2 separate regions of the Homo sapiens genome follow, and region 2 is linked to region 1. The links come from fine-mapping of genetic effects on gene expression. A gene starts in region 1. The other region holds a variant in brackets. All regions are shown on one strand. Distances are between the middles of the regions. Region 1 holds the start of PCAT6 (prostate cancer associated transcript 6). Region 2 overlaps KDM5B (lysine demethylase 5B).

Region 1 (2,915 bases):
CTCACTGAGTCTTCACAACCACCATATTGAGTAGGTACGATATTATCCTCATTTTGCAGAGCAGGCAACGGAGGCAAAGAGGTTAACGAACTTTAAGAGATACGAACACTTTTGAGGCGCCTTTTTTCTTTTGGCGGGAGACGGGGGACGGGGGTGGGGGGGTAGTGTCCAGCAGCCTCAGAAAAAAGGAGGAAGCTCAAAAAGTAGAACGTCAACATTGAAATGACCTCTTTCATCCAGAAAGCTGCCAAACGTATGCAAGGAATGTTTGTCAAGATCTTAGTTCGCTTTCAGATTCACCTAGTGGAAGGAAATCTCTTATGCTTAAGAAGTCTTCAATTAAAAGGGGGGATGGGCGTGGGGGGAGAAGAAAACCGCCTTCCCTTCAACAAATTTTTCCCAGAGGTACCGGGCCCAGGAAAGAGTTCACAGTGGTCCTGGGAGAACGTATTCCTTTTCTTAGCTCTCCAGGGCTTTGGGACCTGGAGTCTTTTCCTGCTCCCTACTGCAATGGAGAGTCAAGCCCAGGGGACAGCTAATACACTATTAAAAGAATTATCAGTGCAAGATAGATATGCGATGTGGCAAGTTATAATAGAATCTAGGTAGTGGGTATAGAGGAATTTGATGCAAATTTCTTTTAACTTTACTGAATATTTAATAATACTAAATAAAAGTTGGGTAGAAGAATTATCGTCGATGGCTCTTTGGTGCGCATTCTGGGCCTCCGAGGGTCTTGATGAAGCTCATGTAGTGTCATGTGCTCTCTCGGGAGAGCGTTGACTATTTTCACTCCTAACGTTGGCATCCTACGAGCCAGGTAGGCATAACTTTGAGACAAATTCTAGACTTACATGAGTTATGATTATTATTTAACTGAGATGGACAGGAAGAACAAGCCTAAGAAAATCTTTCCCAATTCTCAGCTGCGTCCTACGATTCCCTCTCGCTCCCAACTCTCAAGGTCTCCCAGTCCGGCTTCCTCCATTTCCGGTAGTGACCCTAAGTGATGAGATTCTATCGCTCCCAGATCAGGCCGCAGCTGTTTGGCTCCCAGCAGACCCGGTGTGACGTTAAGGGACGGGGCGGTTGCCGGCGTCTTGAGGGGAACCTAGGGACCGAGAGGACTCTCCGGGAAGGCAGCCGCTCCCCCGCCCACAACAGACGCTCCCCTTGCCCTTTATGATGTTTACATGGGCGGAGGGATCCCTCCCAGCTGACAGCCACACCGCGCCGGCCCTTCTTTTTTTAAAGAGCCTAGCCACGGGCGCTGACTGGCCGGCAGCCGGGCGCGTCATCCTCCGGGGGCGGGGCCCGGGCCGCATTGTCTCGTCTAGGGCCGGCTGGACGCCCCAGAGGCCGGACCTGGGCAACCCCAGCCTGGAGGTGCCGGGGCCGGAGCTCCCAGAGGGCTGGGTGCGAGGCCTAGGCGGGGTCAGGTTCGGGTTCCTAGGCCATAGCGGAGCTGCAGCCCAGGCGGCCGGAGCGGAACCCAGCCCCGCTCCGAGTGCCACGTCTCCAGGAACCCCCTCCTTACTCTTGGACAACACTCCGCCCCCGCCCGGGCCTCCGTCCCCCAAACCGCCCTCATTTGTGCAGCGCCAGATCCTTCGGACACATCCCTAGGTGTCTCCATCCTCATTCGGTCCATCCAACTCCCAGACCTCACGTCAACCGGCTGCACCCCACTTTCCAGCCTGCGCCCCAGATCTGCAGCCTTCGCCCCTAGATACACCCGCCTGGTGATGAGGCGCTCCTCGCGTTCCTTCCGGTAACCGCGTTGCGAAGACCACGCTGCCGGGTTGCAAACTTGGGGGGACTTCCTCCCTCCCCTCCCCCTGGGCGCCGTGCAACTGCCCTGGGACCGGGTTCTGGGATGAGGGGGGCAGACCGGGCTCCCCAGCGGCCGGCGCAGCACGTAGCGCACGTGTAGGGTCCGCTCCCCACCCCCTCGCCGCCTCTGACAACTTTTCAGGGCTCCAGGTGTCCGTGAGCCTCCCTTCCGCCCTGGCCTCCGGTCTCTGCCTTGCTCGTGCTTCTACCACCACCCTTCCCCTCCCAACCCGGTGGATCCTCTCGTCTCCCCCAGTCTCCAGTGCACCGGCTTTCCCTCGTCCTCTGCGCAGTCCATCTCAGCTCATCTCTCCAATTCAATGCCATCATCTCTCCTCACCATCTCTCGGTGCCCTGGAATGTTTGCTGTCAGATGTCCCCTGTGAAACCCACAAACGCTTGCGATTTGGCCTCCTTGTTTTATTTTGTGTAGTCCTACAACGTCTTGTTACTACCCCCTATTACAACACTTATAACTCAGTATTTGTCTTTTTTCCGCGGTGTCCCTGCACTCTCCCCATACATATTCCTCTCCTGCCAGATTGTAAGCCTCTAGAGGGAAGAAGTAATGTCTCTCTCCTTGGCACCAGGCACGTGGCACACGCTCCACAAATATTTGTTGAAAGGGAGGGTAAATGGCCTTGAGTTTCTGTGGCTACCATTGGCTGAGGATGGAGCTTTGGGCTGGACAAAGAAGAATCTGGTTGACCACATGAAGCAGGAAGGAGGCTCAGAACGGTGTTGAGGGAGCCTCCACAATGGGTGGGCACCACAGGTGAGATAAACCCATCCTCCCCCATTCCCTGCCCTGCTTAATTCCCGGGAACCAGCAACCCCTCCTATGCTATCGTCTACTGCTGAGCTGGTCCCTTATGGTGGACTTCTGTGCTCACTGTTCTGCTTTAGCCCCAGCTGTCGGGGCTGCCCTTGGGGAACAGCTTACACCTTGACCAGGCGCTCATTTCTGGGTTTCTGTTCTTGGGAAGCTGGGTCTGGGTCCTGGGAGCCACCTGGTAACTAATAAATACCTCTTCCTCCTCCCATCTGCTCTTCCTCTCCTGTCCTGGAATCCCTCTCTGATG
Region 2 (2,915 bases), 35 kb before region 1:
TCCCAGCACTTTGGGAGGCTGAGGCGAGCGAATCACAAGGTCGGGAGTTCGAGACCAGCCTGGCCAACATGATGAAACCCCCCATCTCTATTAACAAAAATCAGCCTAGTGTGGTGGCGCGTGCCTGTAATCCCAGCTACTCAGGAGGCTGAGGCAGGAGAATTGCTTGAACTCAGGAGGCAGAGGTTGCAGTAAGCTGAGATCACACCACTGTACTCCAGCCTGGATGAGACAGTAAGACTCTGTCTCAAAATAATAATAATTATACGACTGGGTGCAGTGGCTCATGGCTGTAATCCCAGCACTTTGGGAGGCCGAGACGGGTGAATCACGAGGTCAGGAGTTCGAGACCAGCCTGGGCAACATGGTGAAACTCCGTCTCTACTAAAAATACAAAAAATTAGCTGGGCGTAGTGGCAGGGGCCTGTAATCCCAGCTACTCAGGAGGCTGAGGCAGGAAAATCACTTGAACCTGGGAGGTGGAGGTTGCAGTGAGCAAAGATCATGCTACTGCACTCCAGCCCAGGTGACAGTGCAAGACTCTGTCTCAATAAAAAAGAAAAATAAAAAAATAATAATTATACATGGTCGGGTGTGGTAGCTCACACCTGTAATCCCAGCACTTTGGGAGGCCAAAATGGGCAGATCACTTGAGGCCAGGAGTTTGAGACCAGCCTGGCCAACATGGTGAAACCCCATCTCTACTAAAAATACAAAAATTAGCTGGATGTGGTGGTATACGTCTGTAATGCCAACTACTCAGGAGGCCGAGGCAGGAGAATCACTTGAACCTAAGAGGCAGAGGTTGCAGTGAGCTGAGATTGTGCCACTGCACTCCAGCCTTGGTGACAGAACAAGACTCTTGTCTCAAAAAAAAAAAAAAAAAAAAAAAATATATATATATATATATATATATAATATATACACACACATACATTAACTCAACAAAAATTTAATTCAGGCTGGGCATGGTGGCTCATGCCTGTAATCCCAACACTTTGGGAGGCCAAGGCAGGCAGATCACCTGAGGTCAGGATTTCAAGACCAGCCTGGCCAAAATGGTGAAACCCCATCTCTACTAAAAATACCAAAATTAGCCAGGCTTGGTGGCACACACCTGTAATCCCAGCTACTTGGGAGGCTGAGGCAGGAGAATGACTTGAACCCAGGAGGCAGAGGTTGCAGTGAACCAGGATAATGCTGCTGCACTCCACCCTGGGTGACAGAGCGGGACTCCATAACAAAAAAAGTAAAAATTTTAATTGACTTTTTTAAAAAATTTAATTCAGCCCCTACCACGTGACAGACAAAGAATTAAACACTCAGTAAACCTTCCTGTGATGTAAGCAGGCACTCTGAAAGGAACTTAATTAGTACTGTAAGCACAATTCCATATAAGTGTTTAAAATTATATGGCAAGTAAATATGCTTTTATATGCCCAGCTTTGGGAGGCAGAGGCAGGAGGATCGCTTCAGCCCAGGAGTTTGAGACCAGCCTGGGCAACATAGGGAGACCTCAACCCTACAACAAAAACACAATTCTGTGTGTGTGTATCTTCACATATGTA[A/AAT]ATATATATATATATAAAATACAGGGTCTTGCTCTGTCGCCCAGGCTGGAGTGCAGAGTGCAGTGGCACAACCATGGCTCACTACAGTCTTGACCTCCCAGGCTGAAGCAATCCACCCACCTCAGCCTCCCGAGTAGCTGGAACTACAGGCACACACCATCACACGTGGCTAATTTTTTAAACTATGTTTTAGCAGAGACAGGGTCCCGCTATGTTGCCCAGGCCAACCCTCCTGCCCCAGCCTCCCAAAGTGCTGAGATTACAAGTGTGAGCCACCATGCCTAGCCAATTCGATATTTTAAAGACCTGTTCTCTACAGAAAGAAATGTTCTTATTTGCTCAAATACAAATCTAAAAACAGATTTACAATGGTGATTCTGTAACAATTTTAATATATCGTAATAATTTCAAAGACGGTCCCCCTGGAATACAGGCAAACAGAACAATAGTGAAGACATTACCTCCAATTCATTCAGTCTCTGGATACGTGGCGTAAAATGAAGTTTATCAACATCACATGCAAATGGTGGCTGCCAATCCTAGGAGAAAGCAAAGGCTCTTATTAGAATAACTTATAAGCATTTGACATTCAAAAATTTGTTTTAAAATTAAAACCCAGGTTAGGTAAATCTTATTCTAACCAATCAAACAAAATAGAACACAGAGTAGTGGTTTCTCAACCTTTTGTCCATGAGAGCAGCAAAATATGTATGAACACCCTTTCCCAAATAAATGATATATCACATATACACCTCTCCCCACAAACCTTCCCACTGAGCAATGTCATTGAGCCTGTAAAAAAAAAAAAAAAAAAAACACTCATTTAGGCAAAAGACACTTTGACTTCTGTATTACCATAGACATACCTCATTTTTTATATAACAGCTATATGTCTATAACTTTAAAAAACACATTTAACCTTCCAGTCACATTAACTTTTTTAATTTTTTTTTTTTGAGATAAGGTTTCACTCTGTTGCCCAGGCTTAAGTGCAGTGGTGTGATCACAGCTGGTGGAAACCTCTGCCTCCTGAGCTCAAGCGATCTTCCACCTCAGCCTCCCAAGTATCTGGGACCACAGGTGAACACTACCACACTCAGCTAATTGTTTAAGGTTTTTTTTAGAGACGAGGTGTAGGTACATGTATTGCCCAGATCAGTCTCGAACTCTACAGCTCCAATGATCCTCCCACCTTTGCCTCCCAAAGTGCTGAGATTACAAGTGTGAGCCACTGAGCCTGGCCCACCTTAACTTTTCTTATTAAATTGAGGGTAAATTCTACAGTGGTGTCAGGGGGAGAAAAACTGACATCCAAATCCAATTTTAAAAGTCATCCTTGGCCGGGCA

What was found. PIP is the estimated chance that this variant, and not a neighbour inherited with it, causes the effect.
Region 2: its variant is the best candidate, but not a certain one, in a credible set for the expression of PCAT6 in whole blood (TOPMed, PIP 0.51).

The regions. Positions count from the first base shown.
Region 1 is chr1:202,809,600-202,812,514 of GRCh38, forward strand. PCAT6 (prostate cancer associated transcript 6) reads left to right here and starts at 1,355. Exons shown (of 2, transcript NR_046325.2): 1 at 1,355-1,771; 2 at 1,976-2,313. LOC124904583 reads right to left here. Exons shown (of 3, transcript XM_047439549.1): 3 at 639-1,960. The coding sequence ends at 1,436. RefSeq lists a silencer at 1,222-1,451.
Region 2 is chr1:202,774,988-202,777,902 of GRCh38, forward strand. It overlaps KDM5B (lysine demethylase 5B), which reads right to left. Exons shown (of 27, transcript NM_006618.5): 2 at 2,030-2,107. Among named protein-coding and RNA genes, the nearest start is that of KDM5B, 32 kb to the right of the region's middle. The variant A/AAT (reference allele first, on the strand shown) is at 1,569.